2 linked regions of the Homo sapiens genome follow. The protein of the gene in region 2 interacts with the protein of the main gene of each other region in a pairwise test. Each region holds a gene or a part of one and is shown on either strand. Other genes may lie near its edges. The genes, in order: GCM1 and FBXW2.

What was found.
Region 1: the proteins of FBXW2 (region 2) and GCM1 interact in binary tests that used the Homo sapiens proteins (3 or more experiments, as listed by UniProt).

The regions. Positions count from the first base shown.
Region 1 is NC_000006.12:53,127,735-53,144,098, forward strand, and holds part of GCM1 (chorion-specific transcription factor GCMa), read right to left. Parts: intron 6,591-16,364; coding exon 6,338-6,590; intron 4,386-6,337; coding exon 4,273-4,385; intron 3,198-4,272; coding exon 3,069-3,197; intron 1,213-3,068; coding exon 472-1,212; 3' UTR 1-471. UniProt on the Homo sapiens protein: Transcription factor involved in the control of expression of placental growth factor (PGF) and other placenta-specific genes. Binds to the trophoblast-specific element 2 (TSE2) of the aromatase gene enhancer. Binds to the SYDE1 promoter.
Region 2 is NC_000009.12:120,777,793-120,790,441, forward strand, and holds part of FBXW2 (F-box/WD repeat-containing protein 2), read right to left. Parts: intron 10,487-12,649; coding exon of another isoform or gene 10,467-10,486; coding exon 9,977-10,466; intron 754-9,976; coding exon 559-753; intron 1-558. UniProt on the Homo sapiens protein: Substrate-recognition component of the SCF (SKP1-CUL1-F-box protein)-type E3 ubiquitin ligase complex.

The sequences.
Region 1 (16,364 bases), on a different chromosome or scaffold from region 2:
AAAAGCCTTGTCAGCCGGGCACAATGGCTCACGCCTGTAATCCCAGCACTTTGGGATGGTGAGGTGGGCAGATCACTTGAGATCAGGAGTTTGAGAGCAGCCTGACCAACATGGCAAAACCCTGTCTCTACTAAAAATAGAAAAATTAGCCAGGCGCAGTGGCAGGTGCCTGTAATCCCAGCTACTCGGGAGGCTGACGCAGGAGAATCACTCAAACCCGGGAGGCAGAGGTTGCAGTGAGCCGAGATGGCGCCACTGCATTCCTGCCTGGGCAAAAGAGCAAGACTCTGTCTCAAAAAAAAAAAAAAAAAAAAAAAAAGAAGGAAAAAAGAAAAAGAAAAAAGCCTTGTCTACTGCTTATCATGATTCTCATTTATCTGTGGTTATGTTTTAAAAATTATTTCCTAAGGAAATTCTTTCAGCCCTTCCCCATTTTTGAGGGGCTGGGGTGCACATAGTGAAAGATTTGGGTCATCTCAAAGGACACAGGTTCAGAAGCATATCATTGTTGCAGTGATCCAAACCCAAGTATGTCATTTCTTCCTCAAAATCCCATTTGCTGCTCTTGCTTGGCAGTGAATATTGCTGATGAGGATGAGAGGCGTAGGTGAAGAGAAAGGGGTCTTCTTGAGGTGAATGGTATGCAGGAGACTGGACGTAGCTGTTAAAATCCACATGTACTTTCTCTTCATAAAGATTACCCGCTGGATTTGGCCATAATGGGGGACAGCCAGTTTTGGCTGCAGGTGGCTCCAATGGAAGCTGCTGGTAAAAGGGTTCTGAAGAGTTTTGGGAAGGAGAGAAGCTGCAAGGCCAGCTGGTCAGAGGAAAAGGATAATTGGAATAACAGTTGTCAGCAAGATGATTTCTCCCCAAAGCAGCATTTTTACTCCACGCTTGTAGATCGCCATGATCAGAGTAGACTCCGGAGGCAGAAGGAGGAAGCAGGTCTCCACTACTGTAGGTTCTGCTACTGGACAATTTGCGCTTTTCATAGAGCTTCATGGGGTCCACAGTGGAAGTCTGGTCAGTCAGATCTGTGATTCCTCCCAGACCATAACTCTTGGAGAAGGAAAAGCAATCATTTAGTGAGTTCTGCTGAGGAGTGTTAGCTATTAAATGTCCACTGTAACTACCAGGCAATTGGACGCCTTCCTGGAAAGACCAAGTTAAAGGTAAACTCCCCTGACTTTGTGTTTCACCTGGAAGAGACTGGAAAGGAAAGTGAAATGCTCGTGTTAATAAGTTAAGCAAATCAAAACCACTGCCATAGGCACCCATGAGTTACTCTGTACAAATAAGAGCTCCATCAGATTTTCCTCATTCCTTACACATTAATACTTGACGCACAAACACATGCAGCGGCTTGACCACAACCACGAAACACTTGAAAAAAGCAAAGGCTGCCTCTGTTTCCATGTTAAAGCTTGCTAACCAGTAAGAGCCAAATTTCCCTACATTCAGTAGAGACATGAGTGTGTTTAAGATGTTTCACACTCAAACACAAATCTGATATCCTAATTGCTTTTTATTTATTCTTTTTTTTTTTTTTTTGAGATGGAGTCTCGCTCTGTTGCCCAGCCAGGCTGGAGCGCAGTGGCACGATCTTGGCTCACTGCAACCTCTGCCTCCCGGGTTCAAGCAATTCTCATGTCTCAGCCTCTCAATAGCTGGGATTACAGGCGCCTGCCACCACGCCCAGCTAATTTTTGTATTTTCAGTAGAGATGGGGTTTTGCCATGTTGGCCAGGCTGGTCTCGAACTCCTGACCTCAAGTGACCCACCTGCCTTGGCCTCCCAAAGTGCTGGGATTAGAGGCATAAGCCACAGTGCCTGGCCTCTAATTGCCTTTTTGAGAAACTTATAAGGAACTATTTACAAAATATCAAAGTATAACTTCAAAGATTTATATTATACTCAGCACAACTCCCAGGGTCTCTGTCTCTCAACATTTCCTCCCTTGACTATTCTATTTCTTAGTGCTGGTTGGAGTGTGAGAGACCATGGTTGCTATTGTTTTTTAGTTTTTCCTTTCCTCAAGAGATTTTTCTTTGAATTCGTGGGAATTTTGTTGAACCATAAATCAGACCTCTAGAACACGAGTGGTACATTCATTTATTTTTCTAAATGGAGGAGGTATATTGTTCTTTAGTTAATCGTTAAAAAAAGGATCTGGTTGAGAATTAAGTTATGCTCTTGTTTAGGTAAAACTACTAGCTGTTAAGGGGATACTTTTAGGGGGTAGAGAAAAAGGGCTGTGACCAGGTAGATTGGATGAGAGACTGAAATGCCACTTGACTTGTCCCATGGCTGGGAGAAAGGATGAGGAAATAGCCATTTGGGTTTGGGGGGCTTGCATTTCCCTACAACAGATCCACATTACAATTTTTTTAAATAAAGTACATTTACAGCCTCTAGGGATGGACCAGTTCCATCTCTGTTCTCCCAAAAAGAAATGTGCACCTTTGAACAGTAGAAAAAGTATAGGAACTACTATCAATATTAAACAGACAAATGCAAAAAAACCTATGATCTGCTGCCCATAAAGCAGTGGACTTCACATCACAGTTTGTCTATAGGGAGTAGCCTCCACTCCACTATTGCCACCCTGGGACAGCTATCATTTTCGGAAACTGCTTGCTTATTTCATCTTGGTAGAGTGTGCTAAGAAAACAATCTGTTTGGGGACGTATGGAAATTCAGGAGGGCGGGGAGGGGGCAGGCGGTGAAATGCATAAGGCTACTATTTTGTGGAGATTGTTTCAATTGTTTTTGGTTCTTGCCAAATATAAGTTAAGTGCTAATTCAAGTTTCTCTTTGTAATTGTAGTAGGGAAGATGATTCTCCAATTACATGGACTTTATGGTTCCCAGCATGCTACAAAGATGGTAGAAAGTAAGAGTAAAGCCTCAGATTTAATTTCTTTAGCAGATGCTTGTTTGTAGATGAGCCTGATAATCCATGATTTCTGGCTTTCCTGCGTCAGCAAGGGACCCAGGAAATCTACCGCCCCCAGCACAGGCGTGGCAAGCTACTGCATGTATTGAACATACATAATGAAGGATTACCCTGGTCTCTGTGCTCCCCTTCAGGCTCAATGAGACGGAGGAAGGTGCTGTGTTCACTTTCTTCATGGCTCTTCTTGCCTCAGCTTCTAACTTGGTTTCTGGTTTTGGATGATCATGCTCTCCCTTTGACTTAAATGAGACAAGGAAGTAGAAAGGAAATGATATAACACTAACTAGACTGTGTTTCATGGTGTATCAGTTTTTATTTACTGTGTGTCCTGCCCCGGGGGTGGTGTTGCAGTTGCCTATGGTAACCAGACTGGATGAACCTCTGAAGGCGCTCCCAAGCCCACCATGCTCCTGCCTGCCTGCCTCTCACCCACCCAGCAAAGCCATAATCACAGTGCTAAGTAACACTTACTAAATGCTTCCTGTGGTATGTGCCAGACACAAATAAACACCCTGTGTGCCTTATATCTCATTTCATCTTCAGCACAACCATTGAGGTACACACCATTATTATCACCCCCAGTTTACAGAACAGGAAACTGAGGCATGGAGTGATTACGCCAGCTGGGTAACCTCCTCTAGAAGTGAGGGACCTAGGATTCCCCTACCTGGAGCTGGCCAAAGCTGAGAGTCAATAGTTAAACATTCAGGAATTTTGTAGGCTGATTGTTAAAAATGACTGCTGGCTTGAAATCAGCCACGGTGAGAATATTTCCATTACAGAAGTTGGCAAATGCTACAAATCAGGACATTTTCTTTTTGGAGAGCTGGTTTACCAGCATCCCACTAATTCAAACCCAGGCAGTCTGAGTCAGGGTCCATTCTTCACCACTGTTGGTGCCACTGCCCCATTAGTACTCTTACACATTCTACAGAAAACTGGGACGTGGAAGAGGAAAATCACCTGCTCAGGTTTAAAGACCGAGTAAAAAGTCAGAGCTGGTGTTCAAACTCAGATTTGCTGAAGGCTACCAGCAGCATGCAGCATGCGGCATGCTTAGAAGCACTGTGCTAACCTCAGTGTGACTAGATTAGCTGCCACTTCTCCTGAGAAGTAGAAGCAGAGACAGGCAGCTCCCCTTCTAGAGCTCCCCAGCACTTCAAACATCTATTAGAAGTGCAGGGGACAGATACTTGCTCTCTTAGAGTGTGAGCCCTCGGGGATGGTGCAGGATCTCATTCACAGGTGCATTTCTAGCCTCTGGTGAAACTCCTCAGTAATGAAACTCTCACGTAACTAACTCAAAAATCCAACCTGGAAAAATATAAAGCGTCCGTCGTGCCTCCAGAAGTTGGTGACCGGGAAGCCCCCATGACCTCGGCAAGGGATGAGCTTCAGAGGCCCGTCACAGTTGGGACAGCGTTTCCCTACAAAAGAGCAGAGGAAAATGACCACACCTGGCTGAACCATGTCGGTTGTTGACTCCTGTGCAGTCTTGAAGATTTTAGCCCTGACTCAAGGACGGCAGAGTATAAATCTGGGCAGAGTTTCATGGGCTGAAATCCACTAGATATTACCCCTGACCCTCAGAAGCCTGGCCACTAAAATGGCCCACATGGGTCTCACACATGGATAGGGGAAGTGGTTGCCTACCAAGTAGGATATTTCACAGGTCAAGGCAGAGCTCTTCTGAGCAGAAAACCCCTCCCTACTTATTTAGTGATATTTGAAATTCTGACCAGGCACAGTGGCTCACACCCATAATCCCAGCACTTTGGGAGGCCAAGGCAGGCGGATCCACTTGAGGCCAGAAGCTCGAGACTAGCCTGGCCAATATGGTGAAATCCCATCTCTACTAAAAATACAAAAATTAGCTGGGCGTGGTGGTGCACACCTGTAGTCCCAGCTACTAGGGAGGCTGAGGCAGGAGAATCGCTTGAACCTGGGAGGTGGAGGTTGCAGTGAGCCGAGATGGCACCAATGCATGCCAGCTTGGGTGACAGAGTGAAAGTCTGTCTCAAAAATAAAAAAGAGAAGTTCTTTCACTTCACAATTAGAACTAAGGGTCAAGGGGCCAAGCTACATGGGAGAGTGAATGCAGCTACTACATTTTCACAGAGGTGTAAATGACTGATACCAGGTCCTGACCTAAGAGCAAGTTTTTAAAACAAACTACTGGGAAAAATATAAAGTAACTTGAGGTTTGAAGTGGGCAATGTACAGGGCATGCTGAATGTATCTATTTCATAATCCAGTGAATGTGTTTTAGAAAATGAACAAATATCTCAGCACGTGATTATGATGTGAACCTAAATGAATGGAATTGAGTCTAACCTTTCACAGCTGCCACTCCACATTAATGCACACATTGAGATCACTTAGGGACCCACAAGAAGTCCAGTGGCAAGTCCAATAAACTACTTTCTTCTAAATTTTACATGGGTCATTGATGAATTAACATTAACCCCTGAAGGGATACATTTTTCCTTTTATTTTTGGATGGAGTCTGTCACCCAGGCTGGAGTGCAGTGGCACAACATTGGCCCACTGCAACCTCCACCTTCTGGGTTCGAGTGATTCTCCTGCCTCAGCCTCCCGAGTAGCTGGGATTACAGGCACACACCACCACACCCGGCAAATGTGTGTGTGTGTGTGTGTGTGTGTGTGTTTGTGTGTTTTAGTAGAGATGGGTCTTCACCATATTGGGCAGGCTGGTCTTGAACTCCTGACCTCAGGTGATCTGCCTACCTCAGCCTCCCAAAGTGCTGGGATTGTAGGCATGAGCCACAGTGCCCGGCCATTTTTCCTTTCTTTTTGGAGATAGGATCTCACTCTATTGTGCGGCCTGGAGTGCAGTGGCTCCATTATGGCTCACTGCAGCCTTGACTTTCCAGGCTGAAGCAATCCTTCTGCCTCAGCCTCTGGAGTAGCTGTGACCACAGGCATATGCAACCACACCCGACTAATTTTTAAATTTTTTTGTAGGGGTTGGGGTCTTCTTATGTTGCCCCGGCTGGTCTGGAACACCTGGCCTCAATTTATCCTCTCATCTTGGCCTCCCAAAGTGCTGAGATTACAGGTGTGAGCCACCACACCTGCCATCTTCCCTTTAACAGGAGCCTTCAGTCCAGTGCCTTAACCCAAGGAGGCATTTTTGATGGTGGGTGCTCTGGGTATGGCAGATATGTGGGGTCCTTGCTGGAGCACAAGGGATCTGGTTGGTTCCGCTCCATATGCTCCATGTCAGAACAGCCTTGGCTGCCACTACACTCCAGGGTGATGGTTTTGCCCTTGGGCGGTGCTGGGACACAGTGACCCATCTGGCAGGGGCATCTGAGGGATGCCAGCTTTTTTGCTGGTGCCACTAAGCTCTACTCACGCTGCTGCTTCTGCCGGGCCTTGTCACAGATGGCAGGTCTCAGGTAGATCTTGCGCCCCTCCTCTGCGAGACAGTCGCGGCCGCACACCACCACACCCAGGCAGGACTTCTTGAGGATGCGGGAGTTGTGGTTGTTGGTATTGCGCATGGCCCAGCTGCTCAGGTGCCGCTGCGCATTCTTGTCCTCCGAGCTGTAGATGTGTTTGGCATAGGAATCTGGCCACTCCTGGAACCAGTCGGTTTTTTTCACGTTCTGATAGAAACACAAAAGATACGACTATACTTTAAGCTAGAAAACACAGCTGTCACCCACTGTGGAGTGAGTAGATAGGAAGGATGTTTTGGCATTCAGGAGCTGGGCAAGAGACCTTTGGCAAAAGCCTCCCTACATTTAATTCTGACAGTGGGATCAGCGAGCCCAGCACAACAGTGGCAACTGAGTGCTGTGTCTGTCAGGCATTCAGCCGCTGGACCAAAATAAATGATAGCCCCTGTGAGTTCCATCTGATTGACACTTCCCTAGCCCTCAGTGACACAAGAAATGACCATTTCTCAGTAGGAATTTTTGAAGGTTAAGTAATGCTATGCTCTTACACAATAACTATAGAAAACAGGGCCCAGTGTGGTAGGGTGTGCCTGCAGTCCTAGCAACTCAGGAGGCTGAGGTGGGAGGATGGCTTGAGGCCAGGGGTTCAAGACCAGCCTGGGCAACACAGCAAGACCCCTTCTCTAAAAACTCAAAATAAACTGTGGAAAACATTGTGGCGGGATAGTGAGATAATGTCTCGTACCACTCTGTGGTTATCTTACTGGGAGTCACACAGGTTTATGCAATGTCGCCAGAGATAAGCAGTGGGAGGGATGAAAAGCCCTGGTTCAGAGAGATCAAAGAGCCACTTTCTTCCCCAGAGATTTTCTTCCTTTATCTTTAACCCTACGTTCACGTGCCTCAAACATGACAAGGGAGTAAGAAAGAGCTTGTTTTGACTGAAAGCGTCTCTGTTATTGCCCAGGATTGGCGCTATGCCCTGTGTATGAACATTTGACTAAACTCTCCTTTAAAACATCACAGACAAGGAGAGTTGTCATTCAACGGACAAAGTTTCCATTTGCAAGATGAAAAGGTTCTAGAGCTCCTTTGCACAACAGTGTACATATAGTTACCACGACTGTACTATGCACTTAAACATGGTTAAGATGGTAAATTTTAAGTTGTGTTTTTGACCAAAATAAAATAATAATTAAAGAAAGGCCAGGGACACCAGACACTCAGTCCTTATAGCATACATTATTTTGCTCTCTGTGCCTCTGTTTCTTCATCTGTAATGTAGGGATAATGAGACCTGCCTACCTGAAGAGTTGTTCTGAAGATTAAATATGATTATATATATTAAATACTTAGCACAGCACCTAGCATGCTGTAAGCTCTAAATAATTGTTAGTCACTGATGCTGTGGCTCATATTCCTAGGCCCTACATTGGTGCACAGATGCTGCATTTGACAGACCCTTCCTTGTTCTTAGAATGAGAAACAGCAAGCAGTGTCAGCACTCAAACTTAGGCTGTGCCCATGCCCTACGGCTTTCAGAGACTTAGCATGGTGTAAGAACATTTTTCATCTAGACGGTTCTAGAAGGTGAAAATAGAAGATTCTAGAAGGTCCAGAAGAAAAGACTAGGCTGCTTCTTCTTTGCTTTCCCAACCAGAAAGCACAGCCCACAACATAAAAAAAAGACAAATTTTAGAAGAAAAAAGTAAATGTCAGTGTCAGGATTGACGGGCATTTACTGAGTTAGAATTCAAATTTAGAACGTGCCAAAGAACTTTGTAACTTGAGACTCTGGGCAAGTAACTTTGTCTTTAAAGCCTGTTTTGCTCTTCTCTAAAACTGAAACATTGATTAAAACTGCCTCACAAAAGTGCTGTGAAGAGCAGATGTGTTGTAAACTATAGATTCCATATAACGATACTTGTTGAATGGAATGTCATGGGGCCTGAGGTGGTCTGAGGAAATATAAATGAGAGGTTTTAGGTACATGCAGGGTAGTACTGTTTAGTGGTTAAGAGCTGCAGTGTGCAAACTAGGGCCCATGGGCCAAATCCTGCCCATTGCCTGCTTTTGTAAATAAAGTTTTATAGGAACACATCTATGTTCATTAACTGAAGTGTTGTCTATGGATGTTTTTACACCACCGCAGCAGAGACTGTATGGCCCACAAAGACTACAATATTTACTATCTGACTCTTCACAAACAGTCTGAGATTGCTGGCTGTAAGCTTGGACTCTGGAGGTACACTGTCTTTCTGGATATGAGTCTTAATGACATTCTTTTCTTCTCAGTGCCTCTGTTTCCTGCTCTGTAAAATGGGGTAACAGGAGTACCCCACAGGGAGGTTTTGAGGACTTACTAAATTAACATACACAATGCACTTAAAATAGTGCCTCACACGCAGCAGGTTCCACCTCAATGTTAACTGTTATTCTACCAGATCTGGAACTGCCCTCAGCCAGTCAATGTGGTTGTAAGAGTCACTGGCTTTTGGGAGAGAGAAGACCCAGTAGAGGTCACTTCATGCTTCATACCTTGCCAAGCCAAATGCAAGATAAGAGTCCAAGTCCCAGCTGGGTGCAGTGGCTCACACCTGTAATCCCAGCACGTTGGGAGGCTGAGGCAGGTGGATCACCTGAGGTCAGGAGTTCGAGACCAGCCTGCCCAACATGGCAAAACCCCGTCTCTACTAAAAATACAAAAAATTAGCCAGGTGTGGTGGCGGGCACCAGTAATCCTTGCTTCTTGGGAGGCCGAGACAGGAGAATCTCTTGAACCTGGGAGGTGGAGGTTGCAGTGAGCCAAGATCATGCCACTGCACTCCAGCCTGGGCGACAAGAGTGAAACTCTGTTTCAATAAAAAAAAAAAGAAAAAAGAGTCCAAGTCCCTATAAAATAAAAGCTTAATTGGTGCACCTCTTGTTCCACAACCTTCCTTCTCAGGGCATGACAGTGGCTAGCCCTTTGTGTGCTATGCTGTAACTACTGTGGTTTGGGAAGGGGGAAGGGTATAAATAATAGGAGGGTGGCATCTGGAAAAGTTCCCTGTGGTCCATCAGGCAGCTGCAGCAGAGATTCCCGGATGGCCAGGCCAGGATGCTGGTTGGACCATTTGCTTTTTCCAGACTGTCCCTCTCCTCCCCAATTCTCTGGTAATTTTGGGCTTGCTGAGACTCAATGCCCGGGGTGAGAGAAGCTCCCCAGGCAGCATGCCTCCTGCTCTCTCCACCCACCTTCTCTTCCCTTCCTTCCTTCCTTCTTCTGGCCCAAAGCTGCAAACAATGATGTCTTGTTTTCTGTCACAGAAATGCCATAGAAAGCATAATAGAGTATTTTATCTTTTGAAATAATAATGTAGGTTAAAACATTAAAATGTCTACTTTTGGCCAGGAATAGCGGCTCACACCTGTAATCCCAGCACTTTGGGAGGCCAAGGCTGGAGGATTGCTTGAGTCCAGGAGTTCAAGACCAGCCTGGGCAACACAGTGAGACCACGTCTCTACTAAAAAAACAAAACAAAACAAAATTTGAGTGTACTTTCCTCTAATATTGGACTGTAAAAAACTACTGGTGCACTTGAATTATTCCAGTATAAAACACAGTTGTCAGGATAGCAGAGATGAGGGCAAGGTAGACTTAGAGGAAAGCTGAGATTTTCATGCTTTAAAGGTGAGTGGCCACTTTAGGCTGGTCAGAGCCATAGATCCCATGAACCAGAAGGAGCGGAATGTATTTGTGAGAACATCTCAGATGTTCTGATTAAAGCAAAGACTCCTTGCCTGTAGAGGAAGAGATGATCTTTATCATCCTTTAAGCTTTTTTCTGACAGTCCCTCCACTGGTACCTTAGTTTTCCAGTTCTATTAATAATGCAGTAATGGCCAGGTGCAGTGGCTCACCCCTGTAATCCCAGCACTTTGGGAGGCCAAGGTGGGTGGATCACTTGAAGCCAGGAGTTCAAGACCAGACTGGCTAACATGGCGAAACCCCATCTCTATCAAAAATACAAAAATTAGCCAGGCATGGTGGCACATGCCTGTTATCCCAGTTACTCAGGAGGCTGAGGCAAAAGAATCGCTTGAACCTGGGAGGCAGAGATTGCAGTGAGCCGAGATCATGCCGCTGCACTCCAGCTTGGGTGACAGAGTGCTTTGTCTCAAAAAAAAAAAAAAAAAAAAAGCAGTAATAATTTGGACAACGTATGGACTGAGAACATTACTAGGAGTAAATATACTCACATCAAGCTAGTCTCTGGGCCATTTATTCATGCCTAGTCTTTGACCTGGACATTTAGTAGGGTCTTTGATGTCTTTTTACACTGAAATTAAGAGAAAACCCAGATCTCAATAATGCAGAGGAACCCAAGTGTCAGATGGATGACTGTGATTTCTGAAACCTGTTAAACCAAGACCTCAGAGAAGTAAAATTTAATAAGAAACAATAATCATTTCTTCATCATGTTTAGCGAATCCCCACAAAATACTTTCTTCTTTTTAGATCCTTTGTTTGTTTTAATTTCTAACTTTTCATGAGTAACTCTTTGTTTTTCCTCTTAGTTAAGAAGTTTATAATTGAAAGGGAATATTTCTGAGGTTTCCAACATGTAGACCTAGCTAATTTGTATTTGATTATCTCCTGGGTAACATCACTGGGGGGTTAACTGATATTTCTATGACTTCTGGGTATAATTTTTTACTAACAGATTTAATCCTCTAACTCAATCAAAATTTTTGTAGCTCTATGCACTTCTAGAACACCCTTCATACTCACCTCATTCTAACTTATTCAACTACTTGAAGTTTTCAGAGGTTATCTGAAGAAATGAAGTATGTATTGTTATATAAAACTAATCAATTAAAATACAAATTCTGAAATAAAGTATCAAAAATATCTACATTATCATATGATCATATTATGAAATTGATTTTCTTTTGGAATATAGTCTGCTCTTGCATAAAGTAAATATCTTCCAGGTTTTCATTAATTATATAAATAGCTTATTCATTACTTATAAATAAATATTTCTAAATAGAACAGGAATATCAAACAAACATACTTTAAAGCAAATTATATAGAGGTACAAAAATCAGATATTATGGAAAACAGGAAAAAAAACCTTCAACCAATGTTTTGATTTACATACAACTTTTCAGGAACTTATCTCTTCTGGGCCAACTGGAAATAAAACTCCAAGTGTTACCAAGGAAAAAAATTGAATTCAACAAAATGCTTTTGTGTTTGTTCAAGAATTACTCCTTAGGGCAGGCATGGTGGGGAATGTCTGTAATCCCAGCTACCCAGTAGGCTAAGGCAGAAGGTTGCTTGAGCTCGGGAGTTCAAGACCAGCCTAGGCAAGATAGTAAGACCCCCATCTCAAAAAAAAAAAAAAAAAAAAAGGGGGAATTACTGATTACTCTTTAGACTAATCCTGGTATTTCTTAGTCAAGAGATCAAGACTCAGGACAGGCCAGGCGCGGTGGCTCAGGCCTGTAATCCCGGCACTTTGGGAAGCTGAGGTGGGCAGATCACGAGGTCAGGAGATCAAGAACATCCTGATCTTGAAACCCCATCTCTACTAAAAATACCAAAAATTAGCCAGCCATGGTGGCACATGCCTGTAGTCCCAGCTACACGGGAGGCTGAGACAGGAGAATCGCTTGAACCCGGGAGGCAGAGGTTGCAGTGAGCTGGGATCACACCATTGCACTCCAGCCTGGGCGACAGAGTGAGACTCCGTCTAAAAAAATAAATAAATAAATAAAATAAGACTCAGGACAAAGTTCCTTATTTACTCTGAAAACACTAAGTTATGCCAAGTTACCTCAGCTTTCAAACCCCGTCTGTCTTCTCTTTTCGCTTCCCTTTTCCCTCCACCCAGCTAAGCAAGGGACCTGCTGCAGGGTACCAGCAGATGCAATAATGCTCCTATCTGTATCACACCAGAAGCACAGAGTGGCAGAAGAATTCTGGTCCAAATAGCAGAGGCCCCAGTGATCATGGGAGCCCATATAGGTAGAGCTCTCAGGGAAGTTCAAATGACCCTTGAGGTCAAGGAGAATGTCTGGCAAAGGGGGCAAAGTCACAGGAATCCCCATCAGAACAATGACAACGTGACCTGCTCATACAGGGGATAATAATTGACAAGAAATCCACAATCTGGTTTACCTGTTAGCTCCCTAGCACCAAGACACATCTGAGTACTACAACTGGCTTGTTCTGATTACATGTGGCCACATGGATTCACAGAGAGAGCTCAAATATTCATGTTTGATCACAATTTGGGGCTTATCTTTTGCAGAGACAAAGGAAGTTTGGCTGGCTAAAATCATAGTCCAGGAATGAACTAATCAGAACTGTGGCCCCTTTGCAGTTGACTTTACTATTCTATACTAGAGAATGTTCTCTCTACCAAAAAAAAAAAAAAAAAGTACTTAAACCTTGTAATTTTGTGAGTTAATGGCTTGGGGTGGCTTTGGCCATGGGTTTAATTTGCAAACTGCTCAGTGTGTAGGAACAAAATGATCCAGGGTGTTTGCTGGCTGTGGTGCTATTGGCACAACCTGAACTGAGAGAAACTGGCTGGTATTTGAAACAGAGTGGATATTCTCCTCTTGCTAGTGAAATGGGTACTATTTAAGAGAAAAAGGAACTGAATTTCTTCCCAATTTTCAACCAGAAGAAAATAATTCTTAGAGATTCAAAGTTCTCTCAAGTATTACAATCAGTACTAATGAGAGTGTGACACTCTCCAGGACCATGTAATCCACATTTTAAATCAAGACTAAATCAACACCAGACTTTTGCTGCTTGGATCAAGCAAACCTTAAAGCAATTAGATTTCACCTTTCCAAGTACAAATAATGACATAAATAATAGATGGTTGATCTAATTTTTTTTTCCTCTAACCTTACACAAACTCTTCTGGCCTTGCTCCCCATGCCAGAGTCATGTTGAACTGCACACTCCTTTCAAACTCCTCTAGCATTTTTCTACATGGCATTGATTCTCTATTTAGGCAGTAATCTTGTTCCACTAGCCCAGAAGATCATGAGCATTTCCACAGAAGTTAACATAGCTTAATGGCCCCAGTATCCCTGAGCCTACTACAGTGTCTCCTGCATTTAAGTTTCTCAAAAATGTCTGATATCTTAGTAAGGACATCACTGCTCACTGTTGTCAAAATTAACCCATAAACCTTGATGTATCTGAACTAGTTAAAGACACATGGAGTTTCTCAGACCAGAAGATGCAACTGGTATTTGGGTAATCATTTTGAAACTTGAAGGGCCGGGTGCGGTGGCTCACACCTGTAATCCCAGCACTTTGGGAGGCCAAGGTGGGTGGATCACGAGGTCGGGAGATCGAGACCATCCTGGCTAACACGGTGAAACCCTGTCTCTACTAAAAATACAAAAAATTAGCCGGACACGGTGGCAGGTGCAAGTAGTCCCAGCTACTTGGGAGGCTGAGGCAGGAGAATGGTGTGAACCCGGGAGGTGGAGCTTGCAGTGAGCCGAGATAGTGCTACTGCACTCCAGCCTGGGCAGCAGAGCGAGACTCTGTCTGAAAAAGAAAGAAAGAAAGAAAGAAAGAAACTTGAAGCCCGGGTGCAATGGTTCATGCCTGTGATCCTAGTATTTTGGGAGGCCAAGGTGGGCAGAACTCTTGAGTCCTGGGGTTCGAGACCAGCCTGGGCAACATGGCAAAACCCCATCTCTACTAAAAAGACAAATAATTAGTTGGGTGTGGGGTGCACGCCTGTAGTCCCCACTATTCTAGAGGCTGGGTTGAGAGAATCACCTAAGCCCGGGAATTCAAGGCTGTGGTGAGCTATGATTGCGCCACTGCACTCCAGCTTGGGTAATGAGAGTGAGACCCTGAAAAAAAAAAAAAAAAAAAAAAAAAAAAAAAAAAAAAAAAACAGAAAGAAAAAGAAAGAAAGAAGGAAGGAAGGAGAGAGAAAGAAACTTGAAACTTGAAGCATGTGAAAGGATAAACAGAAAAGGAATTTTCCTACGTGTTGTATAACTAATAATTCTGGCAAGAATATAAAATTATGAAATATAAACTATAAATGATCTAGATCGATGGGACAGAGAGTGAAATTAGAGAAATTTATAATCATAACAAGCCATTGCATTTGATCCTTTAAACCACATTTGTTAAATGCCAAAAAAGGTAGTCTGGGGAACATCAACCCCTGAAGGGCTTCAGGAAAAAAGTTTCATGGTCAAAAATAAGTTGGGGTAATACTGCCTAATACAGCCTCCTTCGGAGAGCCACCAATGCACAGGATGGTGAAAAAGACTCCAAGCCTGCAGTCAAGAAATCTGTTTATCCTTGTTGAACTTCGTATTGCTCTTTTTCTTTCTTCACAGTACCTATTAAAATTCCATGTAACTTGTACTCTACAGAATATATTTAGGGAACACTATTCTAAACATCTTAGAGACTGAGGCAGGATATGTGGAGAATTCCTATTTTCATTCTACAGGAGGTAACTAAGACTTAAGAAAATCAATTTCTCCAGGCTCACACAGATTCTAAACAATGGAGCCATTCATTAATGAATTCCATATTCAACATTTGTTGTTTCATACACGTCAGGCACTGTGCTAGGCACAAGGCTGACATTTCTAGAATTCTAGACTATTAGAACTAATAGGTACATACCAGACCATTTGGCGCAACCCCCTCATTTTCAGAGAGGAAAGGAAGTTTCAGAAAAGGTAAACAACTCAAGGATCTCCAAAAAAAAAAAAAAAAAAAAAAAAAAAAAAAAAGGAGATGGAACTAGAATTCAAATCTGGGGCATTTTTCTCCAAGTCCTGTACTTTTCATAATACACCCCTCTGTCTCTGGATATGCTCACACAATATAAACAATATAAAATCTAATGTCTGGAAATCTTTCCAAGAGCTCAAGTGTTTCTTGGTCTGATGACAAAGCTAGCATTAAACCCAGACGAGGATGGTATTCTCTCTACTCAGAAAATACTAAGGAATATTTGCATTTTAAATCATTTCCCCGACATATTTAACAAATTGGAAGACAGCTATTTCCGTGAGCAATCTTAGTACTTTTTAATGAACTATAAATACATTTCTAAAACCAAATGTGCATTTTTTGCTATACATTTCTCAGTTTAATGTCATGGGTAGCTGCAAACACTTTCATTTTTGGAAATTCATGTTGGAACATGAACTTTTATGAGCCTCAAGTTTCCCTATAGGAAAGAGGTCTTCATCTCTTGTTTATGGATCTGATGAAGAATCCTGTCCCAGAAAAAATTGCCAGTTAAGACACAGTGTCACCACCATTTCATGGGGTTCTCAAACTCACTAAAACTCTTGCTCTAGAATGTGACATTGTAAAGTCTTCTACATATCTGTTTACTTCAACTCTTGATTTCGTGTCTCTCCAACTTCTATTTGGGTGTTGCAATCATGAAGTTAGAAAAAGGTGAAAATATGGGTCCTGGAGCCAAGAGAAATTAAAGTTTACTTTAAAGTTTCCCTACAACAGTGACAATAATTGTAATACTAATTAAGAGCAACAACAAACACAAATCCCTAAAATCGATATTTGCATGATTTAACTGTGGTTTCTAGAACCATTTGTAAATGGATGGAAAGTGGGGCACACTTTCTGTTCTCCAGCTCTGTCCCAAGATCTACGAAGAGAGGATACAGATGTGGGGTCGGGGGTGGTGAGAGGGGTAGAGGGGGTGGGGTTGGAAGTTAAGGAAAAGCATAAAGAGAAACAAAAGGAAGTCTTCGTTAGAAATTCTGGAACAGTTACAAAGATAGAGGAATCTCTATTCCCTCTCCCCTGCTTCTGATAACTCAAATTCCTTATTACCCAGAATCAGGCAGACTGGATTGACTTTTTCATGACTTGGTACTGGTGGTGTCCAGTCCTAGCCTTCTAGTCACCTTTTCAAACAACTTCTAGTGAGAGCATCTTAAATGTTAACAA
Region 2 (12,649 bases):
AGGATGCTATACATTTATTAGGAAACATTCAGGTATGTTTCTTTCGCCTTATCTCTAGGTGGTAGCTTGTTTTAATCAACTGTCAACCAAGCTCAAACTGGATGTAATCTGTGTAGACCACACAATCTAAGAACCACCGTCACACCAAAGAACTTTCAGCCCTAATGCTACAAATAAAGTGGAATTTACACAAGTAGGATTTACTCAGTTCAGAGGTATGGAATCTGATAAAAGCCAAGGGACTGTCTGTTCAATAGGATATAAATGAAACAGGAGGGGGGAGAGAGAGAATGAGAGAGAGAGAGAGAAACAGAGAGAGAATGAAAACTACCCTTCCCACCAGAAGGGTACACACATAGAAGAAAGCAAGAAAAAGCAAAACTGGGTAAAACATTCGAAATAAGAGTAACTAGAATAAAGGGAAATAACTGCAATGACTAAGAAAGAGGGTTGAAAAAAGCAGGTTAAATTAAAAAAAAAAAAGCATTTCACATTCTTGGCTCCTGGCTTAAAAGGATGAGGCTAAGTTGTAAAAACCCTTGAAAAAGGGCAACCCACCCGCCCCCGTGTGCCCCCGAAAGTGCTGGGTCCTGGCTCCGGAACTCCATTCCCAGCAAGCCACAGTGTTGTCAAAGGAGCCTGTCACAAGCTTCTGTTCATCAAACTTCACCGCTGCACAAGTGTGGGTCTGGATGCCATAAACGCACTGCCCTGTGCTCACATCCCACAGCTTTGCAGACAAGTCATCTGACCCTTCAAGAGAAAAACAGGGAGGTTAATAAGAAAACAAACACACTAAAGAAGGAAAATCAATCCCAAAATCATGGTGTTCTTCAAGAACATTAACGGTCCCTTCCTCTAGCACTTTACTTTACCACTGAAGAAATCAAAGCACGGAGAGAGTAACACAACTTGCTTAGAGTCACCAAAACGGAGTCAAAAGCACTAGGACAGAATCCAAGCTTTTTGGGTGAGACACTTTCCCTTAACTTTTCAGGCTACAGAAGGTCATTAGACTAAAAGCATCCCTTGGTGCTTCCACTTGAAAAATTTCATAAATCCTTGGCTATCACGAGCTCTCTGATTTGACTTCAAATAAATAGGTATTACACATGACTGCATGTTTACACTTGCATGCTTGTCCATTACCCAACAGTTCTGAACAAATAAGGATTGTTAAATAGTAAAGGTGTTTGCTGAAATATATTCCACTCTAAGGCAAGTCAAGGACAAACCTCAGAGCCTGGGCTAACTTCTGCAAAAGCTAACTGCTAATTGCTCCAGTCATCTTGAAATACGTGAAGGAAGAAACCTCAAGGAAAACCTGGGATAAATTATCCCCAGATATTCACAACTCAACAAAAAGTTTGTAAAGCCTCTTAAGATTCTGAAGGGAAAAGTTGGCTTTATTTCTGCCTCTGATGAAAATTCTATACTAATCATGGTGACAATTCAGGACTTTGCTTTAAGTTTAAAATCCTAATGATTAATTCATTCTTACAATGACCCTTCAATAAGCCTCAACAAATAAAAAGACATTTTTGAGAATCCACTAAATACAGTCACTATGATAATGGCACAGTATCCTAGGAAAGCACCAAATGACCAGTTTTTAAAAAGCTGAAATGACTAAAGCCAGCCACAATTCTACCTTCAGTCAAGAACCACTGTTTGAGACAATGGAAAAATAGCCATCACTTATGAAAGAGCTAGAGTATGAATTTTAACCTGGGAAAACTATGATAGCATACTGAAATAAAGACTGTATTTATTGTCACTTTGCTATTTAGACTGTTTCCTTCTGTATAAAAAGAGGGGTAGGACTTGGTTGGTTCTCAATGGCCATGTGATACAACTTTATCAAAACACACAGGCAGGTCCCTATTTTCAGAGAGTTTAACTTGGGGAACATCTGAGGCAGGGTCCAATAATCTTAAAAGTTTGCCAGGTGATTCTAACTCATCAGCAATATTTTGAGAGCCAATGGTCTAGAACGGTGCTATCCAACAGAAAATATAATGCAAACTGCAGATATAATTTAAAATGTCCTAATAGTTACATTAAAAAAGAAATGTTGGGCCGGGCGCAGTGGCTCATGCCTGTAATCTCAGCACTTTAGGAGGCCAAGGCAGGCATATTGCCTGAGCTCAGGAGTTCAAGACCATCGCGAAACCCTGTCTCTACTAAAATAAAAAAAATCAGCCGGGCATGATGGCGCGCCTATATTCCCAGCTACTCGGAAGGCTGAGGCATGAGAATCGCTTGAGCTGGGGAGGCAGAGGTTGCAATGAGCTGAGATCACGCCACTGCATTCCAGCTTGGACTACAGAGGGCCTCCACCTCAAAGAAAAAAAAAAAAAAAAGAAATGTTAGCCAACATGGTGAAACCCTGTCTCCACTAAAAAAAATACAAAAATTAGCCAGGCATGATGGCGTACGCCTGTAGTCCCAGCTACTCAGGAGGCTGAGGCAGGAGAATCACTTGAACCCGGGAGGAGGTTGTAGTGAGCCAAGATCACACCACTGCACTCCAGCCTGGGCAACAGAGGAAGACTCTGTTTCAAAAAAAAAAAAAAAAGAAAATGTGTTAAAATAATTAAATGTGTTTAACTCAGTATGTCAAAAATGTCATTTGAACATGTAATCAATACAAATATTGAGATATTTTATATTCTTTTACATTGTATGTCTTTGAAACCCAGTATTTCACACCTCCATTTGGACTAGCCACAGCTCAAGTACTCAAAAACCACATGGCGCTAGTGGCTACTGTACCGGAGAGCGTAAGCCTAGATAGTCTTTAAGGCCTTCAGTTCAGGCATGTTGTGACTGTATTCCTAAGGAGCTAGAGTAGGAAAGGAAATCATTTTAGGTCCTTTATGAGCTTGGTTTTGGTTACCAGTGTTCAACTGGGGTCTCATTCATTCATTCAACATATATTTATAGAACTTCTGTGTCAGGCAGGATTCTTGTTCTCATGGCACTCAGTCTACTTGGGAAGACAAAAAGGCTAAACAAGCAATAATAATTCAGTATAGTAGCTGGCAGGCACTACAAAAGCCCATAGCAAATACAAGGAGAGGACAAGAAGAGAAAACATCTCAGACGAGGCTCCACTGAATTTATGACCATGCTCTATAACACGTGCCTTAGGAACTGGCATGATTGGTTCTTCAACTACACTCCTCTTTTGTTTTTAAGCTGGGCTTTGGTATAGGACTGTTTCAAGAAAGAATATCATGGCAAAAAAAAAAAAACCTTTAAGTTTTAACTAATTTAAACCTAAGGATGAATAAGTTAGCCAGGCCAAAACAAAACAAAAGGAATAGTATATACCAAAACTTTTTCTGTAAAGGGCCTGATAGTAAGTATTTTAGACGTTGACCTATTGAGTTGCAATTACTCTCTTCTGCTGGATTTGGCCCACAGTCCACAGTTTGCCAATCCCTGGTATATACCTATTAAAGCAACTATTAAATATCTCTATATGCAACACAAAAATTATTGAAAAGGAACTGGGATCAAGTCATAAAGAACTATTTGGAATCATTCAAAAAACCGTCTAGGAGTTATTTACAATGCTTGTCAAAAGCACTGCCTAAAACATGAACACTGATTATGAAAACAGTTCAGTCTGACTGCGAAATAGTGGCAAGGTTTGGCTGCAGAACTGGGTTAGGAGGTTGTTTAACTATGACCTTATTTGCATATCAGAAAGATCACTATGGCTATATCATGGAAAAAGGTTTGAAGGGGGGAAAACTAGAGGCAAGAAGGCAGTTAAAAACCAGGGGAGAGGACAAACAAAATGTGACACATACATGGAATATATTTTATATACATACACACACACACACACACACACACACACACACACACACACATACACACACACACATATATACATACATGGAATGGAGTTATTCAGCCTTAAAAAGGAATAAAATTGGCCGGGTGTGGTGGCTCACACCTGTAATCCCAACACTTTGGGAGGCCGAGGCGGGAGGATCACCTGAGGTCAGGAGTTTGAGACCTGCCTTACCAACGTGGAGAAATCCCATCTCTAATAAAAATACAAAAATTAGCCAGGCGTGGTGGCGCACGCCTGTAATCCCAGCTACTTGGGAGGCTAAGACAGAAGAATTGCTTGAACCCGGGAGGCGGAGGTTGCGGTGAGCCAAGATGGCGCCACTGCACTCCAGCCTGGGCAACAAGTGCAAAACTCCGTCTCAAAAAAAAAAAAAAAAGAATAAAATTCTGAGATGTTATGATATGGAAGAACCTTGAAGACATCATGCTAAGTGAACTAAGCCAGCCACAAAAGAACAAATACTGTATGATTCCACTTATATTAGGTTCCTAGAGTAGTCAAATTCATAGAAAGTAGAATGGTGGGCCAGGCATGGTGGCTCATGCCTGTAATCCCAGAACTTTGGGAGGCCGAGGCTGGTTCACCTGAGGTCAGGAGTTTGAGACCAGCCTGGCCAACACGTTGAAACCCCGTCTGTACTAAAAATACAAAAATTAGCCAGACACGGTGGCGCATGCCTGTAATCCCAGCTACTCGGGAGGCTGAGGCAGGATAATCGCTTGAACCTGGGAGGTGAGGTTGCAGTGAGCCAAAATTGAGCCACTGCACTCCAGCCTGGGCACCAAATTGAGACTCTGTCTCAAAAAAAAAAATAAAACAAGCAAGCAAGCAGAATGGTTGTTTTGCCACAGGCTGTGGGGGAAGGGGCATGGGCAATGTTTAACTGACAGGGTTTAGGCTGGACATGGTGGCTCATGCCTGTAATCCCAACACTTCAGGAAGCTGAGGCAAGAAGAGTGCTTAAGCCCAGGAGTTAGAGATCATCCTGGGAAACATGGTGAGACCCCATCTCCATAAAAAATACAAAAATTAGCTGGGCATGGTGGCACACACACGTAGTCCCAGCTACTTGGGAGGCCAAAGTGGAAGAATCGCTTGAGTCCAGGAGGTAGAAGTTACAGTGAGCCAAGATCATGTCACTGTACTCCAACCACTCCAACCTGGGCTACAGAGTGAGACCTTATCTCAAAAGAAAACCCCCCCAAAAACAAACAAAAAAATTGGATACAGTTTAACTATATAGTGTATTATATACTGTTTATACAGTTAACACTGTATAGTGTTTAACTGATACCATTTTAGTTTGGGAAGATGTAAAGTTCTGGAAATGGATAGTGGTGATGACTGCACAACAACGTAATGTACTTAATGGCACTCAACTGTATGCTTTAAAATGATTAAAATGGTAAATTTTATGTTATGTATGTTTTCGCACAATTTGCAAAAAAAAAGGTTATCCAAACTAATTATTTAAACTAGTTTTTATAGGAAAACATTGTGCCAGTTTTACACCCTAAAAAAAAATAATAATAATCAGGTTGAGTCGAGTTCCATTTATAGTGATGCAAGTCTACTCCTGAGAATCCTTTAGGAATCACTGTTCTCTGCTCCTTTCTGGCTTTATGTCAGCCTCCCCTCTGGACTCCCATTTGCTGCACTGGCTAACCCAACATGTTTTCAAAGAGGTCACCAGTGATGCAGCATAGAGGTGAAAGAGGACTAAAGAAATGTGGACTCTCACACTGCACGAAAGAAAAAAATCCCTCCCCATTCAGTATCTTAAAAATCTTAATAATACTTTAAAAAAAATCAGACTATTGCACAGAACTCTAGATTTCAGGCTTCTCTTGAAGTCAGATCTAACAACTCTGACCCTGAATCCCACCCACATGGCAATAATTTATTACAATGGAGCACCAGCTGCACTCTTTAGAAAGGCAAGTGTTCTTGATTTGCTATAGTCCACACAGAGACTTTTACCTCAGTCAGGTCATCTTCCTGGTCCCAGTGTGTATGTTCCACAAGAAAAAACTGCTCTAATTCATCCGTGTATGCCCTCACATTGTTTTTCAAACAGTAGGCATCCCATAAGTAAATATCTACTGAACAGCACAAAGCATAATAGATTCCTTTCTTACCATTTCAGAAATAAATTGCGAAAGAGAAAGATAACTACCTCAATGTCATTAGCCATTAATCTCTTCAATAAAACTGTCTATTGCTTACTCAAGGCACTAATGTGAGAGTCACTAAGTTTATTGCCAAATTCAGGGTTTCCCAATTCCACCACAATGAGAATTCAATCTCTTAAGTAACAAGATGACACAAACACATGTACAATTCTGTCACAAATACCTCTCTTCACAGTTCCAGGGATGCTGCTGTTAGAAAAATTAAACTAATACTTTGGATCATTTTCAACCACTGCACAGCGTAATTTTAAATATGCAAACCTGATGAATTTAATCAGAATAAAAATCACATTAACATACAGACCCACCAAGAGAATAATCTTAAAATGTAGAATTGTAGATATTAACTTTCCAGGTAGTTAGAGAATTCAGTGAATATTTCCCATTTACTTCCACTCCAAGTAACTGCAGTTTTTACTACATTTCAAAAATAAGGTTTGATGAGAGAAGAAAAAAACTTTTTAAAGCAAGAGGACCTAGGCATAGTGGCTCACACCAGTAATCCTAGCATTTTGGGAGGCTGAGACGGGCGGAGTGCTTGAGCCCAGGAGTTCGAGACCAGCCTGGGCAACATGGTGAAATCCTGTCTCTACAAAAAATACAAAAAGGATCCAGGCATAGGGTTGCTCGCTTGTAGTCCCAGCTAAACCCGGGAGGCTGACATGGGAGGATCACCTGAGCCCAGGAGGTGGAGGTTGAAGAAAGCCAAGATCACATCATTGCACTCCAGGATGGAGCTACCCAGTGAGAGGTTGTCTCCAAAAAAGAAAAAAAAAAAATGCGGCTGGGTGCAGTGCCTCACACCTGTAATCCCAGCACTTTGGGAGGCCGAGGCAGGCAGATCATCTGAGATCAGGAGTTTGAGACCAGCCTGACCAACATGGTGAAACCCCTTCTCTACTAAAAATACAAAAATTAGCCGGGCTGTGGTGGCGCGTGCCTGTAATGCCAGCTACTGAGGAAGCTGAGGCGAGAGAATCGCTTGAACCCAGGAGGAGGAGGTTGCAGTGAGCCGAGACTGCGCCACTGCACTCTAGCCCGGGTGACAGAGGAGCTCCTGTTTCAAAAAAAAAAAAAAAAATGCTACAGGTGGTTGTGAAAAAATGGTCAACTGCCAGTAGGAGCTCCAAGCTCCAAGATGATACTGCATCTTAATATTTTTTTTTTTTTTGAGACAGGGTTTTGCTGTGTTGCCCAGGCTGGAGTGCAGTGGCACAATCTTAGCTCACTGCAACCTCCACCTCCTGGGCTCAAGCGATCCTCTCACCTCAGTCTCCCAAGTAGTTGGGACCACAGGTGTGAGCCAGCACACCCAGCTGTTTTTTTATTTTTTTGTAGAGATGGGATTTTGCTATGTTGCCCAGGCTGGTCTCAAAACTCCTGGGCTCACATAATCTGCCTGCCTTGGCCTCCCAAAGTGTTGGGACTACAGGCATGAGCCCCCTCATTTGGTCAACTGCATCTTAATCTTTTAAAATCATGAGGCAAAAGAGACATGGAAAAGCCATCACCACAACAGAGAAAGTACATCAAAGCCTAGAAGAACTGGTGATGTTGTTCTAGTAATCAGGCTTGTAACACAAGGAAAATAAAGTGTGAAATAACTTCAGGATGACAAACCAAACCATGAAATGCTTTAAATCAAATGTTTATTTTCCAAAACCAGCAGAGTGTCTAGCATTTCAGAGAAAATATCACCACATAATACATACCCTTAATGAATAAAGAAATGCATTGTAAAACGGTCTTGAGAAATGATACATCTCAACATTAAAAATATTTAAATTGAGTCTGGTGAGACTCCTGAGGGAGAAGCAAGTTACTTAACACTATATTGGTATGGCATCAATTCAATCTATCTGGAAAGGGCACTAAGAAGAGCTATAAAATTGGGCCGGGCACGGTGGCTCACGCCTGTAATCCCAACACTTTGGAGGGTGGATCACCTGAGGTCAGGAGTTTGAGACCAGCCTGGGCAACAAGGTGAAACTCCGCCTCTACTAAAAATACAAAAAAAATTAGCCGGGTGTGGTGGCGCACACCTGTAATCCCAGCTACTCGGGAGGCTGAGGCAGGAGACTCGAACCCTGGAGGCAGAGGTTGCAGTGAGCCGAGATTGCACCACTGCACTCCAACCTGGGTGACAGAGTGAGACTCCATCTCAAAAAAAAAAAAAAAAAAAAAAAAAGAGCTATAAAATAATTCATACTTCTGTATCTGGTGATTCTACTTTTAGACTTCTATCCCAAATGAATTCAAGGGAAAAAGAGGTAATACAAAGACACTAATAAAAACAGAAACAATCTGAATATGCATTGATATGGTTAAGCTTTGTGTCCTCACCCAAACCTCATCCTGAACTGTAATCCCCAGGTATTGAGGGACAGACTTGGTGGGAGGTGACTGGATCATGGGGGTGGCCCCCCATGCTGTTCTCATGATAGTGAGTGAGTTCTCTCCAGACCTGATGGTTTTATAAGGGCCTCTTCCTGCTTCACTCACACTCTCTCTCTCCTGCTGCCTTGTGAACAAGGTGCTTGCTTCCCCTTCGCCTTCCGCCATGATCATATTGCCTTCTGACATGATTGTAAGTTTCCTGAGGCCTCCCCAGCCATGTGGAACTAGGAGTCAATTAAACCTCTTTTCTTCATAAATTACCCGGTCTTAGGCAGTTTTTTTAGCAGTCTGAGAATGGACTAATATATGCATTAATATGGAAATGGCTAAATAATGACTATTGATATATTTACAAAAAGGAACAGTTTATACCGTAATACACAAATGTTTATTGGAAGTTATCTTGGATGAAAAAGAACACCAAGTATTTCTATATATTATATACAATGTAAGGAAACAGGCATTGGGATTATTAGCAAGAACTGCCTGGAGTTATTCTAAATGCTGCCTAAGAATTATTTACATTGCCTGTCAAAATGTATTATCTAACACATGGGCATTAGTTATAATCATATACAGAAACACACGTCCATTACAAATGGAAAATAACATATAATTTTAAATTTTTAATAATTATATTGTTTCATAAAATTACTTAATTGCCTAGTTAAAAAATATCCAGCTCTCTCTGTTCCCAGGCCCAAACTCCAACTTCTACTTCTTCTACTTAGAATCACAGGATTTCAGAGCAAGGAAGAAATATCTCCTTTCATATATACATATATATTTATTTTGAGATGGAGTCTCACTCTGTCACCCAGGCTGGAGTGCAGTGGCACCATCTCAGCTCACTGGAACCTCCGCCTCCCGGGTTCAAGCGATTCTCCTGTTTCAGCCTCCCGAGTAGCTGGGATTATAGGCGCATGCCGCCACGCCCGGCTACTTTTTCGTATTTCAGTAGAGACGGGATTTCACCATGTTGACCAGTCTGGTCTCGAACTCCTGAGCTCAGGCAATCCACCCGCCTCGGCTTCCCAAAGTGCTAGAATTACAGGCATGAGCCACTGCGCCCGACCTCCTTTCCCATATTTTAAAGATACAGAGAGGTTAAGTAATTTGGCCATAATGATCTAACTACTTGCTAGGATTAGATACCAATTTTTCCACTGTTTTTTTCCTCAAATATCAGTGCCAACAGAAAAAGAAACAGAATTTAGCAACAGAGGACTACACATGGAGGAAACACAAAGAAAAAGTAATCTATAGCTTTGTAATTCACATAATGTTTAAAAGACAGTCTGAAGTGTTTTTCTCATAAAATTTTATAAAAATGATTGTGTTCTCTAGAGAGAAGGAAGAGGATAAGGGGGGGGAACCACTCAGGATTAGAGAAAAAAAGTCACTGTACATATCTCATATAATCAACACTTGTCATTCTCAAAGCTCAAGACTGGTTCAAGATTACACCCTATGAAATACAAAACAAAACCCAAAAAGCAGTTTCAACATCTCTTACCTGTACAGAGAAGTCCATCTTTGTAGTAAAGTGCATACACTCTGGCACTGTGTCCAATTAATGACGAGGTTTCAAAGGCTTCATGGTCCTCCAGTTGCTTCATTCTCAAAATAGCCTTCAAATAAACCTTCTTCCAGTGCAAAGCGTCCTGAACAGAATCATCTATCTGCCAGCCCAAATTTTTACATGCAGTCTGCCACACCTCTGTACAGGCACTTATCACCTTATTCCACTGTTTAGAGACGAGGCAGCATGTGAGTAAAGTCTGAGGATCGAGCCATTTTAACAAATAAAAACTGAGCTCCAGGGGAAGGAGTTTGAGGAAGTCCCGCTTGAGGAGAGTCTCTAGGTTATTGGAGAGATGCCTGAGCTGGACTGCCCCACTCAGACTAATCAGGTGATCCAGAGTTTCATTTTTCTGCAAGTCCGTCAGAGAAAGAAATGTAACAGAAATGTTATCAAGCCATGTCTCAAAGTCCTTTCTCTCCATAAGGTTATGGAAAAATTTACCTGTGGCACATCAAAATATTGTATTAGTTCTGCTCAAAAAGACTGTTCAAGCAAGACTGCTAACAAATGAAGTATTAAAAATTAGTGTAAAAAATCTGCCATTACAACTTTATGCGTAGTTACATTACAACTTTACAGTTAATACACCATATTTATCTGAACACTTTCCATGCACACAAAAGAAAACACATTTGAGAAAACATACTTTAACAAATCATGAATCCAAAACATGTCAGTGAAACAGACTGGCGTGTGTGACTTATTCCTCTTGAAGTCTAGCACGTGCTACATGCATCTTCATAGTAATAGATTTACCAACAATTCATTATAAAACAGTATATTTTACAATACACCCTTCCCCCATCAAAACCATTATAAAACAATTTCCTTAATGAATTCCTTAATACATTCTATTTGGGTACTAAAATCACAAAAGCAAGCACCAGGATGTGACAATCAGAAACAGTCTCCTGAGCAGTAACCTGAGACACTGATTGTCATGGCAGGCACAACCTGTCACCAAAATCATAGAACTGACTACTTGGTTTTGCAACAGATGTTCAGATGAAAAGGTTTAGGGAAGAAAAGCAGGTGTGGTAAGTTATCTGCCTCAGGAATTCTGGTTCTTCCAACTTCTTTATGGCACTGCCTGTTTAGAACATGAATTATAAAAGAACTTATGTGGCTTTAGTCTGTTTTTCTAAACCTCATATGAGCTAGTGACAACTCTTAACCACGTGCCCCCGAGAGCCATGAGGGGTCCTGGAGGCCTGCACAAATAAAGCAAATTAATAATCCTGATGTTTATAAAACACCAGAAAATAGACATTATCATCTTCACTTTGCAAATGAGGAAACTACAGGTTAGAGAAGGTATGTGATTTGCCTATATTCACAGGGCTACTAAATAGCCACAGAACAGACTGGACGCCAGTGCTCTCAAGATCAGGTACCAAGCTCTCTCTCTAAAATAAGTGACAACCAGGAGAACCACGACCAAGTGGTAAGATCTGGAGGTAGTGTGTCTACCCGTTAGACCATTTTCTCCTTTAGGAGAATGACAAATTGCTCCTGAGCTAACTGTAACAAATAATTTTTTTTAAAGTATCCTGTATTAGTGTCAACAGGTGTTAATTCACTCTTAATGAGGATTAGACTAATGAAAGATTACAAAAAATATAACCAGTAAAAACTATCTTTCTCAAGACTATGTGTTGATAGATGTTAATGCTGGGTGATGTGTACATAGGGATTTATTATTCTCTTTATTTCCATATATTTAAATATTTCCATGGTTTAATAAAAACTTTCCTTCTGAATACTCAGTTTCTCACAAGACTGTCATATTAATTTTAAAAACATATGTCCAAATTAATGTGAAAAAGGAAAGTTAATTTCTTTCCAGACATATCACCTAGATCAGGTCTACACAAAAAGCAAGATCTCATCTTTCAACTTTGATAATGTAAGGTGAGTAAAATTGTAAGTGTCCAATATCAAATTTGGCAATAACATTCTTAGACAAATAAGCAATCTGATTTATTAGTAGAAGCAACCAAACCTTGCAATCACATCATCTGCTAACAGTTTTGATTTCTGGAACTGTGACTAGACTTCAAGATAATACGTTTCAAGCCAAAGTTTGGGCTAGAGAAGATTTATTAATCTGTATTAAAAATTTACCTAGCTGACAAAAAATAATCAGATGGCTAAAAGTTTTATCGACTTATCACGCAATAACAAGCCCCCTCCTTCCTCTAAATCCTAACAACCCTCTTATCTATACAACATTTCTTCAAAATCTCTACTTCTAAAAAATAATAATTTGCAACAAGACAAAGCAATTATCTTCTGTGGGCATCTGCATATTGTCACAATAGCTAGTTAATTAATACTGGTCAATTAAAAACACACACCAGGCTGGGCACAGTGGCTCACGCCTGTAATCACAGCACTTTGTGAGACTGAGGTGGGCTCGGCCGGATCACGAGGTCAGGAGATCGAGATCATCCTGGCTAACACAGTGAAACCCCATCTCTACTAAAAATACAAAAAATTCCCCTGGCATGGTGGTGGGTGCCTGTAGTCCCAGCTAGTCGGGAGGCTGAGGCAGGAGAATGGCGTGAACCCAGGAGGCGGAGCTTGCAGTGAGCCGAGATCACG